Homo sapiens: one gene and its partners. The protein of the gene in region 4 purifies or fractionates together with the protein of the main gene of each other region. This does not show direct contact. Each region holds a gene or a part of one and is shown on either strand. Other genes may lie near its edges.

The links.
Region 1: the proteins of FCN1 (region 4) and DNAJC13 purify together in Homo sapiens (affinity purification with mass spectrometry; 3 studies listed by BioGRID and IntAct, with this or other methods). This does not show direct contact.
Region 2: the proteins of FCN1 (region 4) and PODXL purify together in Homo sapiens (affinity purification with mass spectrometry; 3 studies listed by BioGRID and IntAct, with this or other methods). This does not show direct contact.
Region 3: the proteins of FCN1 (region 4) and SEZ6L2 purify together in Homo sapiens (affinity purification with mass spectrometry; 3 studies listed by BioGRID and IntAct, with this or other methods). This does not show direct contact.

The regions. Positions count from the first base shown.
Region 1 is NC_000003.12:132,459,002-132,462,501, reverse strand, and holds part of DNAJC13 (dnaJ homolog subfamily C member 13), read right to left. Parts: intron 2,253-3,500; coding exon 2,145-2,252; intron 1,453-2,144; coding exon 1,297-1,452; intron 36-1,296; coding exon 1-35.
Region 2 is NC_000007.14:131,546,629-131,550,128, forward strand, and holds part of PODXL (podocalyxin isoform 1 precursor), read right to left. Parts: intron 1-3,500. UniProt on the Homo sapiens protein: Involved in the regulation of both adhesion and cell morphology and cancer progression. Functions as an anti-adhesive molecule that maintains an open filtration pathway between neighboring foot processes in the podocyte by charge repulsion.
Region 3 is NC_000016.10:29,889,551-29,893,050, forward strand, and holds part of SEZ6L2 (seizure 6-like protein 2 isoform 5 precursor), read right to left. Parts: intron 1-3,500. UniProt on the Homo sapiens protein: May contribute to specialized endoplasmic reticulum functions in neurons.
Region 4 is NC_000009.12:134,902,732-134,905,322, forward strand, and holds the end of FCN1 (ficolin-1 precursor), read right to left. Parts: 3' UTR 501-2,591; downstream 1-500.

The DNA.
Region 1 (3,500 bases), on a different chromosome or scaffold from region 4:
AACCCAGCTCCTTTTATTATTGCCATGGAAGGATGCTTTAAAGTGAGGGGGAAAAAGTATCAAAAAATAAAAAAGAATTTTATTCCAACACATTTAGCTGTTACTCTTAAGAAGGGTATACATTTTTACACAAGGTATAAGCCACAAAATTAGTAAAGGATACATCTCAAAGTCAGTTTGGTTAAATATTTTAGGTATTTTTACAATATAGCCTTAGAGATACAGACACATAAACAAAGAATTTACATTAGTAGGAAACAGAAGGCATCTATTTGAATAATTATAATTATTTGAATGATACATATCAATGATACTAAAATAATAAAAATATAAACATCATATATACATACATGTATCTAATAAGTACTATAGTACTGTATAAAATAACAAATGTTTTCCAGTGTTTATGAAGAGCCCTGCTAAAGCTCATTTTATCATTTGGGAATTTGTAAAGAAAAGGGAACTTTGGGCCTACCACAGAAAAATGAGTTTTTCACTACTAAAATGGAGGCCAGGTGTGGTGGGTCATGTTTGTAATCCCAGCACTTTGGGAGGCTGAGGCAGGAGGATCGCTTAAGCTCAGGGGCATGAGAACAGCCTGGGCAACAAAGGGAGACCCCGTCTCTACAAAACAAATAAATAAATTAGCCGGGTTTGGTAGCATGTGCCTGTGGTCCCAGCTACTCAGCAACTGAGGTGGGAAGATTACTTGAGCCTGGGAGGCTGAGGCTGCAGTGAGCTGTGATTGCATCACCGCACTCCAGTCTGGGCAACAGAACAAGACCTTCACCTCAAAAAATAAATAAAATAAAATAAAATAAAAAAGCAAGATATAGAAAATGGGCAGAGTGTCAAAACAGCAGTGAACACCCATCAATGGGACTCTACATGAAACACCAAGAAATCTGTACACTCAAAATGTACCAATATGATAATGTACTAGGTGCATTTATTCGTCAATATTATAGATCAAGCTTGTCCAACCCGCAGCCTACATGGATGCTTATATTTATTCAAAGCTAACCCAGGATGGCTTTGAGTGTAGCCCAACACAAATCTTAAACTTTCTTAAAAACATTTTTGCAATTTTTTTTTCTTTTAGGTCATCAGATATTGTTAGTGTTAGTGTATTTTATGTGTGGCCCAAGACAACTCTTCTTTCAGTGTGGCCCAGGAAAGCCAAACGACTGGACACCTCTGCTATAGAAGTATGCAAATGTTATCTTAGAAACAGTGATCCTAAAAGCGGTTCCCTTAAATTCACTGTTATCTGACAAGAAAAATACAAGCTCTCACCTGAAAAAGTTTAAAAAGGGTTCTTCCATTGGATGCTACCATCTCCAAGAGCATATCAAACTGCTGCCCTTCAGTTGTCTCACTATATGGAGCACAGAGGGCAAAGGTAAGGAAGTCCAAGAGCGAACTAATAACTAGGGCACCAGTCCCATGATCCTGAAACAATGCAACAGATTCTCTTAAAGACTTAAGAGATGGGGACCTTCAGTTAAATTTTAACAATAATGTGTTCCTTTCTGTTATTCTATATGTCAGACATCAACATTGACTTTAATTTCTCAACATGAGGTTCAAAGTTGGATGACTCTTTAGTACTTGCTTTTGCTCATATAGTGAATCCATTATCCATCATACCTCAAAAGGAACAATTAAAATTCAAATTTCAAGAGTATAACCAAGACTTCTCAAATGTGTATAACAAAGGTTAATATTTGCAAAAAATAATATTTGACAATATTTGCAAAACTCTGGCAATCTGCTTATGTTCCTTCAAGATGCTATAGAATGCCCATCTCCAAAATTGTTATCAGGGACTGAGGAACAAAGATTTGGCTTAATTTTTTTTAGAGCAGTTTATTTCCTAATGATATTTTTAAAGAAAGAAAAAACAAAAATTTGGAGTATCCCTGTGAAAATCTAAAGGCTTTGACATCTATCCTTCCCAGGTGAATGGATATAGTCCTAAGACAAAATATTTTATTATCAGTGACCAAGCTGAACTGTGACCAATACTGACCAAAGCTGGGGGCTACAATAAAAAAAAAAAAAATCATCCACGTGGCACTTCTAGAATATCTTTCAATAATGGTATGGTATCTACCATGAAGACAAATTTAATTATAACTTACCACATGGGAATTAAATTTCTCCAGTAAGTTTTCCAGAAACTTCTTTGACGAGAGAAGAGAAGCTTTGTTCAACTGTTCTTGTCTTAAGTCATAGTCATCATGCATGGGCTATTGATGAAAAAAAAAAAACAGTGATAATTCATAAGCAGTCCCATGTGCTAGCATCACGCAAAAGTCATTTATAAACAGTATTCATTACACATTGAAAGAATTAAAAACCATTGCCTTTAAAGTGTAAGGCAAAAAGGAAACTCGTGATAAGCAGGCAGAAGTGACGATTTACCATGATTTTGATCAGACTTCACAGATAATTTGCCCAACAATTAACTCAACATATACAAAAGGTACTCTCTCAAAAGTCACAGATCTTATTAAAAGGCAAACATTTGCCCACCCAGAATTTTATAACTAAAATTTGAAATAAAACTTAGCATTTAAATGTACTAAAATTAACAACAAATACTTGTCTCAGGGTGATTTTCTTTTGAGTGTATAAAACATTCCAGCGTGATGGTTAGGAGTAGAGCTCCAATCCTAATTTTACTACTGACAATAACTGGGAGACGTTACGCAAGGTAAGTTACTTTACATAAGTCTCTAAGTTTCATTTTCCTCAGCTGTAAAGTAGGAGTAATAGTATTTATGTAACATTACTATGATGCTTAGATGAGATAATTCATGTAAGATACAAAGCCAACACCTAATATGTAATGAGGGCTCAATGTTTGTTTCATAGCATTGTTTCTTACTTTTTTTTATTGTGGTAAACTACATATAACAAAAGTTACCATCTTAACCATTTTAAATTACACTGTTCAGTGGCATTAAGCATTCACATTGTTGGGCAACCATCACCACCACCCATCGCTAGAACTTTTTTCATTTTCCCAAACTGAAACTCTGTAATCATTAAACAATAATTCCCCATTCTGCCTTCCTCCCAAGCCCCTGGCAACCACCATTCTACTTTCTGTGAATTTGACCTCATATAATTAAAATCATACAATATTTATCCTTTTGTGACTGACTTCTTTCACTAGCATCATGTTCTCAAGGTTCATCCATGTTGCAAAACGTGTCAGAATTTCCTTCCTTTTTGTTTCTGCTCATTTAGCAAATACTGTATGTTACTATGGTTAATTGTATAAACTTTGGAGCCAGAAAGTGGGCTTGAAGCCTCCTCTGCCATTTACTAGCTACATGACCTTGAACAAGTTACTTGGGCCTTAAGTCCTTCTCTACAAAATAGATATAACAGTAATAACTTCTAAAGTTCATTGGAAGACTGAATAATATATGAAAAATTCATAGAATAGTACCTGAAACACAGAAAAAAATTAATCATTATTTATTAAA
Region 2 (3,500 bases), on a different chromosome or scaffold from region 4:
GGTGAGAGGATCGCTTGAACTCCTGAGGCGGAGGTTGCAGTGAGTCGAGATCGTGCCACTGCACTCCAGCCTGGGCAACACAGTGAGGCCCTGTCTCAAAAAAAAAAAAAAAAAAAAAAAAAAAGTCTGTTTTGACTCAAAGCCCCAAAGTGAAGGGCAGTGCCCCCTAGGGGTGAGCTGAGGAGCACCAGGCAGGAATAGGAAGGCAGGGGGCGCCATCTCAGTGGCTTCTTAGCTAAGCCCACCCTGGCCACCTTCATCTAAAACTGCGGTCTCCAACTAACCCTGCCTCCCCGCACTGAGGCCCCCAGCCTGAGTAATGGGGAAGGGCCTTGAAGAAGAAAACCTGGCCCTGTGAGGTCGCAGAGGATGCTGCTCTAGCATGGCGTTGGGGGTGGGGTAACAGGGTCTGTTGACTCACACTGGGCTAGGGCTGACGCCAATACAAGAAATAAAATCAACATGCCAGGTGCGGGTGGCTCACATCTGTAATCCTATCACTTTGGGAGGCTGATTAGGCGGATCACCTGAGGTTGGGAGTTCAAGACCAGCCTGACCAACAAGGAGAAACCCCGTCTCTACTAAAAATACAAACTTAGGTGGGCGTGGTGGTGCATGCCTGTAATTCCAGCTACCCCAGAGGCTGGGGCAGGAGAATCACTTGAACCCGGGAGGCGGAGGTAGTGGTGACCCAAGATTGCGCCATTGCACTCCAGCCTGGACAAACAAGAGTGAAACTCCGTCTCAAAAAAAAAAAAAAAAAAAAAAAATCAACACGTGTGGATGCTTTCTGCACATCAGAGGCACCACCTACATGATCCTATTTAGCCCTTGCTATGGAGGAGGGCACAATACCTATTTTCCCGCTGGAGAAGCCCAGGTCAAGGAACAAGTCTGAGATCACAAGGCTAACAAGTGTCGAAGCTGTGGCTAAAATCCAAGCCTCTTAACTGCAGAGTCTAGGGCATCAGCAGAGATTTCCATTTTTCTTCTCTTCACCATCACAGCAAAATTTTTTGTCAAAGGAATTCTTACGTAGAGACCTATCATACGGAACAGTTAAAAGTAGGCCTTCGTGAAGAGGATGGACGTAAAACTCCCCCCAAATCGGCCTCCTCTTAATTTTCCTCTCCAGGTATGCACCCCAAGCCCTCAGTGGCCCCCAAGGCAGCTCCACGGAATACCACCCGCAGGTTTCAAAGTCACTGGCCCCCGGCTGCTGCTGTCACTGAGAGCTCATAGCCAAACCCCTAAGACAGTATTTCCTTGGCCCTGCACTCACCTGCTCTGAGGTGAGAGGGAGAGATGGGGAGCAGAAACACTTCTTCCCTATCCACAGGCCAGTGGGGGAACCCAGGTCCTTCCCCTCCTACCCTGCCCAAGGCCCAGCTTATGGGGGTCCTGGGACACCTCGGATCCCTGTTGCAGCTCAAGACCCAATTAGGAAGGAGCCAGGTTTCTTTGTGCATTACCAGAAACTGCCCCTCAGGACCAGAAGGCTACAGCCACATAACTGGAGGACTAAGTGGGACCAGGCTTCCTGAGAGCTGTGTTTCCTGAGAGCTGTGTGCAGAGGCGAAGCTGATCTGACCGGCAAGGTGAGGACAGAGGGCAGCTACAGAGACGTCCAAGGTTTGCAGGGACCAGTTCTGCAGTAGCATTTGCCAGTCACCTACTCCAAATATCCACTCTCTGCTTCCTCCTTGTAACTGAACCACTGTTTTTTGGGTAGGCACTTGGGTGCCTGAAATAAAAATTACTCTTCCCTAAGTTCTCTTTCCTGCCTGCCTTTCAGCTAGTGTGACCACATGCTAAGTTCTGTTCAACAAAATGTGACTAGAAGTGTCACATGTGGTTTCTGGGAGGCACACTCTAAAGAGGAGCCACATGCTTCTTGTTCCTTCCTTTTTCCTGATGGCTGGAACTCCAGCAGCCACCTTGGACCACGAGGCCACGTGTGAATGATGGCAGAACCACTATACCACCCCTCTGAAGTTCTATGATATGAGAGAGATATAACTGATGCCTGTCTTATTTAATCCACTACTCTTTTTTGTTGCTATGAGCAGCCAAATCAAGTTCTAACAAACACAAGCCCCAATCCTCAGCTGAAGGATCCTTTGGGTGGGGACAGCACAGGAGACATGGCCCCCTCCTGCTTCCTACCAGGAATCCCTGCTCCTTCCTGCCCATATGCCCCCAGGACCTAGGCCGGCCCCCACCTGCCACCTCTTTCTTGAATCAGGTAGCCTTGCATTTACAGAGCACAGGCTGGCAGGCAAGTTCTAAGCCAGCCCTGACACCTACTCACTTACTAACTCATTCATTCAACCTATATTTATGGAACAGCTACTTTGAGCTAAGTGCTATTCTAGGTGCTGTGGCTACAGCACAATGGAAGTCCCTGCCCTCATGGAACTTACAGTCTAACGGGGAAGAGACAGACAAACAAACAAACCAATGAACACATATCAGGTGACGAGTGCTATGGAGAAAATAAAGGCGAGTAGGAGGAAAAGAGTGTGCTGGGGGGGAGGGGTTTCTAAGCAGAGCAGCCCCGGTAGGCCTCTTTGAGAAAGTGGCATTCATGGGGAGAGCTGAAGGAAGTGAGGGAGTGAACCACGTACATATTGGGAGAAGAGCTGGTTGTATGATCTACTGCAAGTCCTTGCATCTGTGCCTCAGTTTCTCCTCTCTGGAATGGTCTGTGAGATAAAGGTCATGCAAAGGCAGGCTACCCCAGCTGGAGGGCTCTGTGGTTCCAATCAGTGTGTTGGGAGTAGGTTGGCATGGGAACCTGGCTGGATGGAGACCAAAGGGACTCAGTCCTCAGGCAGAGCTCCATGAATTTCAGGTAAGAAGGAGCTGTGGCTTCAGCCTCACACACAGCCAGTATGTTCAAAAATTACAGAGTGCCCTCCTCACCGGCTTGCTTAACTGCCGTCCCTTCTACTCTGATCAGGGTCAGGTAGCTGGAAGGTTAAGAAATCAGACAGCGTAGACCCCAGGTCAGTCCACACATCCCTAGGGGCCTGGCTCTGGGAGGTCCCTGCACCCCAATCCAGGGCCAGATAGCAAGCCTCTCTCAGCCGCTCCTTAGAATTCTCTTCCCCCTGAGTGGAGGCACATACATAGCCTTCTGGCCATGACAATTGGTGGACGAGGTGCCACCCTACACCCTGGTCCTCGGAAGTGTGAGGTGGCTTATTCCCAAGGGGAATAAGGCTACAAAAGAAGAGAGGGTGGTGGTGATATATGTCGGGGAAGGGGGTGGGGATGGTTGGAGGTGGCCCAGGGGCCAACCTTAGCTGGGGGACCCTCTTAGCTGAGGGTCTGTGCTTGCTGCTGCTCCAGCGATTCAGGGCAGGGCCAGGACTCAGAGACAATGCAAGAGCTTGGGATGCGGGAGATGTGGGCAAGGGCCACTGATGAATCTGCAGCTGAACGCTGCATTTTGTGCAGCCAATTATCCCGCAAACATTTCTTAACCACCTATTTGG
Region 3 (3,500 bases), on a different chromosome or scaffold from region 4:
CAAGGTGCCCTGTGGTATACCCTCAGCTCCTCAGCTTCCATCCAGAAGAACCACTTGAAACTTCTTTTTTTTTTTTTTTTTTTTTTTTTTTTTTTGAGATAGGGTCTCACTGTGTTGCCCAGGCTGGAGTGCAGTGGTGTGATCATAGCTCACTGGAACCTTGAACTCCTGGCCTCAAGCAATCCTCCTGACCCAGCCTCCCAAGTAGCTGGGACTACAGGTTTGTGCCACCATGCCCCGCTAATTTTTAAATTTTTTGTAGAGATGACATCTCAGTATGTTGCCCAGGCTGGTCTTGAACTCCTGGCCTCAAGCAAACATGAAACTTGTTGAGGAAATTTGACTATTTTGTCTTTTTGTTTTTGTTTTTGTTTTTGAGGAGAAGTCTCACTCTGTTGCCCAGGCTGGAGTGCATTGGCGCAATCTCGGCTCACTGCAACCTCCGTCTCCCGGGTTCAAGCGGTTCTCCTGCCTCAGCCTCCCAAGTAGCTGGGATTACAGGTGTGTGCGACCATGCCTAGCTAATTTTTGTATTTTTAGTAGAGATGGGATTTTACCATGTTGGCCAGGGTGGTCTCGAACTCCTGATCTCTTCAGACCTCCTGACTTCACTTTCACTGGGGGATTCATTTACAGGCCACTGAGTATTAAGATCTTTAAAGACAAAATAGTCTTTAAAGGCACAGTGGCTCACGCCTGTAATCCTGGCACTTTGGGAGGCTGAGGCGGGCGGATCACCTGAGGTCAGGAAAAAGACCCAGGCCTTGTCCTCAGGAGTCCATTGTCTACTGAGATGAACATAAGAACAACCTTCTAGAACAAAGTGGTTTCAATAAATGGTAGCTTTGGGAATGGCTGCCCATGCCCAACAGAATCAAGTCTGAATGCTTTAGTTTGACATTCAAGCCCCTTCCATAGTTAAATGCAGCCCAGCACATTCCAGGTTCAGGGTTGATCTCCCAAGACCGATATAGCCTACACAACACAGTTTTGTGACTCCTTAATTTTCCACCTCCATATTTTCGCTTGTGCTCTCCCCCTACTTTCTCATCTTTTAAGAGATCAGACTGGGGGGCTTATGTACCACCTCTTCCAGGAAGCCTTCCTGACTCTACATCTCTCCAACAGTTACTTGTTCTCTTACCTGTACACAGTCCTGCATGCATGATTTTGTCATCACATTAACCATTGTCTTTTTTTTTTTTTTTTTTTTTTTTTGAGAGGGTCTCACTCTGTCACCCAGTCTGGAGTGCAGTGGCTTGATCTCAGCTCATTGCAACTTTTACCTCCCGGGTTCAAGTAATTCTCCTCCCTCAGCCTCCCAAGTAGCTGGGATTATAGGCGTGTGCCACGACTCCTGGCTAATTTTGGTATTTTTATTATTATTTATTTTATTATTATTATTTTTTGAGACGGAGTATTGCTCTGTCACCCAGGCTGGAGTGCAGTGACACGATCTTGGCTCACTGCAACCTCCGTCTCCCAGGTTCAAGCAATTCTCCGGCCTCAGCCTCCTGAGTAGCTGGGATTACAGGCATGTGCCACCATGCCCAGCTAATTTCTGTATTTTTAGTAGAGACGGTGTTTCACCATGTTGGTCAGGCTGGTCTCGAACTCCTGACCTCGTGATCTGCCCGCCTCGGCCTCCCAAAGTGCTGTGATTACAGGCGTGAACCACTGTGCTGGTATTTTCAGTACAGACAGTGTTTCACTATGTTGGCCAGGCTGGTCTTGAACTCCTGACCTCAGGTGATCCACCTACCTTGGCCTCCCAAAGTGCTGGGATTACAGGCGTGAGCCACCATACCTGGCCTAACCACTGTCTACACTGGCCCAAGCCTTATTTATTTTGTGTCCTAAAAGGCTAGTCTATGAGGTCAGGAGTTCCAGACCAGCCTGGCCAATATGGTGAAACCCTGTCTCTAATAAAAATACAAAAAATTAGCTGGGCATGGTGGCACACGCCTATAATCCCAGCTACTCAGGAGGCTGAGACAGGAGAATCGCTTGAACCAAGGGGGCGGAGGTTGCAGGGAGCTGAGATTGTGCCATTGCACTCCAGCCTGGGCAGCAGAGTGAGACTCCGTCTCAAAAAAAAAAAAGGGCTAGCCTGGCTGATCAATGGGTGCAGCCAAGAGGCAGCATGGATCGGTGCAAAGACCACTGGATTTGTCATCAGGCAGACCTGAGTTCCAGTTCTAGCTCCAGAACTTACTAACTACATGCCTTTGAGCAGGTGACTTCATCTCTAGGGGCCTCTCACCTATTAACGGCAATAATAATTCCTATCAGGGAAGATTGGCCTGAAAATTAAATAAAAGAAACACGCAAAGCACCTGGCACATAGAAGCTGCTGAGAAAACGTTAATCACCCACCCCTCAGCCTCAATTAATGAATGACTGGGAGCCAGGGACTCGGGGATCTGTTGTCTGGCTGCAATAAACGTGCAGATGGTTGAGCAATCTACATAACCTTTGAGTCTTTTCCTTCCTTTGAGAGATAGAACTGACAATGGCCACTCTCAGGGTTTCTGTGAGAAGCAAATGAAACTAAGGTTGGTGAAAGGGCTTTGTAATGGGAAAGTTTGCTGAACTTGGGGTGAGGGGTGAAGGAGACTTTGGCTTTTCAGAGAAACTAATGAGGCCACTCTGGACCAGAGGCCCCAGCTAGTGCAGGTTGGGAAGGGCTGAAACAGGGCCTTGGTCCCAAAGGTACCCAGTGCAGCTGCGAAGCAGGGAAGACTGAGCAATGAAGGCCAATTTGTGCAATAGTCCTGCTTCCCCAAATGTTCCACTTAGCCTAAGGAGTCCTATTTTCAGTGCCCTGGGGAAGTGGCTGCTTAAAGGAGCCAGTGGGGAGCCATATCTTCAGATTTCACAATATCTGAAATCCAGCACTTGGCCCAGGCCCTCCAGGAATGCTCTTGCTCCCCAATAACCAGGTCCCTACTGCCAAATACACGTCCCCCAGCTTGCTGGCCCCCGATGAATAGGCACCTTTGCTATGCACACATGAGCCCCTAAGGCAGGTCCTGAGCAGAGGCCTCAAAAGAGGCTGGAGAGGACATGAGAATAGGATTCAGGGTGTACCCTGCATGAGGCACACAAGGCATCTGCGGTCAGCAGAGCTTTCAAGGAGGGCAGAGTGCGTGACACCAGCCAAGGCCATGCGGTGATGTGAAGGGGGCATTGGCCCGACACACAGTTCTCTCTGTCTCCATGAAGCATAGGAAGACAGTGGGGTCTGGAACAGGGCACTGGCTGGGCCCCTTTCCTCATGCACACATGTCTGCTAGAACACACCCTTGTACTGTGGGAAGGTTCCCGCACACACAGGTAAGCATGGATGTACACACATGTGCAGGTCATCTGTCATAGGTCCTAACAAATGCAGTCGTGCGTGAATACAGCCCCCCTTTCCTGCCCCCAGAAGTCAGAAGGATCTTTAAATTGCAAATCTGAGGCTTTCACTTTCCTGCTTAAAACATTTCAGGCCAGGC
Region 4 (2,591 bases):
TAGTAGGTTTCAGTTAAACCTTATATATGAGTACATTATGTGTAAATGGTATAAACACAAAATTAAGGACATTAATTTTCAGATTGGATTAAAAAACCCAAATTATATGCTGTTTACAAGAAACCCAACCTCAACTAAAAAATATAGAGTTGCTAAAAGTAAAATGGGGGAAAAAACTTATCACGTAAAATCCAAGCGAAAGAAAATTGGAAAGGCTATAGGAATAACAGACAAAGTAAAATTCAGAACAAAGACTATTATCAAGAATAAAGGGTGCTATTACATGTTGATAAAAGGGACAATTCAGCAAGGACACAATACAATTCCAGAAGTGCATTCACCTAAAAATGCAACGTCAAAAATTGAGGAAACATCTGCTAGAACTGAAACGAGAAACAGATTAACCCACCATTATAGTTAGAAAGCTTATACTTCTCTGTTAGAGAATCTGTTAGTAATCAACAGAATGACTAAACAGAAAATCAGTAAGGCTACGAAAGTGGTGAACCAGGCTATTAATCAGTTTATTAATCTATTTTTTATATATAGACTTTTCAGTAGACAACAGCATAAAACATATTCTTTTCAAGTTCAAATTGAACTTTCACCAACATAGACCATATTCTGGGCCATAAAATAAACATTGGCAAATTTAAAATAATTGAAATCATATTAAGTTTGTTCTCTGACCCTGATAGAGGTAAGCCAGAAATCAAGAACAGAAAGATATCTAGAAAAATCCCAAATAATTTGGAAGTAAAAGAACACAATTTTAAATAAACCATGGGCCAAAGGAAAAGTCACAGAGGAAACTCTTAGAACTGAACTAAAATAGGTGAATTTTACTGTATTAAATTATACCTCAAAAAATCTGACTTAAAAAAAAATCCTCTCTGCCTTCCTGAATACTATGTCTAGCATTCAATCAAAACCCTCCAAGTGTGCCAAAAAACTAAGATTAAAAAGAAACAAAAAACAGAAGATAAGATCTACAGGCCACTGAGGTGTTTAAAATGTCTTTAAAAACGACTCTGACTGGTGTGTTGAAGAAAATGGAAGATGGTGAAAAAAATAGGTGAAAAAGTGGAGAAGTGGAGCCAAGCATTGGAGTCTACACTGGCTATTCTATAACTGAAATTAATAACTCAATCAATGGTTTTCTATTTATAAGCAAATTAGATACAGTGAAAAGCATTATTAGTGAACTGGAATATAGGTCAGCAGAAAATATCCAGACTGAATGTGAAAAGGAAAAAAGAATACAAATCCAGAAACTAGAACAAGAGACATATGAGACACGAGCAAACATTGGCCATTGGTGTAACTGAAATATCTGAAAGAGAAGAGGGAGTAGAGTAATAGCAATATTTAAGAGATAATGGCTAGCATTTTTCAAAACTCATGAAAGACATCAAGTCACAGATTCTATGAACCCCAAGCAAGACAAATTCAGAGAAAGTCTCATCCAGGCACCTTGTAGTAAAACTATCAAGGCAAAGAAAAAAAATTTTATAAATGTATTTTTTGAAAAAAGTCATATTACCTTCAGAGGAGCAACAAGACTTTCAGCTAGCTTTTCAGCTGAAATAACTGAATCTGAAAATACTGGACATCTGTATTTACAGTGCTAAAAGAAACTAATTGGCAATATAGAAGTCTACACCCAATCTAAATACTATTTAAAATGAGGCAAAATAAAGATGTTTTCAGATAATAAAAGTGGACAGAATTCATCCTCAGCAGACTTTCATCAAAAAATATATGAGGCTGGGCACGGTGTCTCACATCTGTAATCCTAGCACTTTGGGAGGCTGAGGCGGGTGGATCACTTGAGGTCAGGAGTTCAAGAGCAGCCTGGCTAACATGGCGAAACCCCATCTCTACCAAAAAATACAAAAATTAGCCCAGCGTAGTGGTGCACACCTGTAGTCCCAGCTACACGGGAAGCTGAGGCAGGAGAATTGTTTGAGCCCAGGAGGTGGAGGTTGCAGTGAGCTAAGGTCATACCGCTGCACTCCAGCCTGGGGGACAGAGTGAGACCCTGTTTCAAAAAATAAAAATAAAAAATATATATGAAAGGGAGTTTGTCAGGCAGCAAGAAGATGATCTCACACCAAAAATAATAATAATAATAAAATAGAAGAAGGAATAAAGGGCAACATAAAGTGTAAAAATGTGGTAAAAATGAATACGGACTGCACAAAACAATACTAATAGCCATTTCTTGCAGGACTTTAAATAAATGTATCATAGCATGGCGGCAAGAATGGCATAAAAAGCAGAAGGGAGTGAATGTAGTTAGAGGTGTTTCAAAGTCTTCATTGGTAAAGTGGTAGAAGGAATAATTTATAGTATACCGTAAAAAATCAAGGCTATATATTGCAATCGCAAGCATAAACACCAAAAGATAGGAAAAGAATGAACAAGTTATAAGCTGATAGAGGAGGTGACGGGATAATAAAAATATTCAACAAAGACGAGAGAAGATGAGGAAGGAGAGGAAAAGAACAGAAACAACACTATGTGGATGTCCACGAATGCCCAAATGTTGCTGGATGGGCCCACGCCTACACTCCTACTTGAGAGGTCCC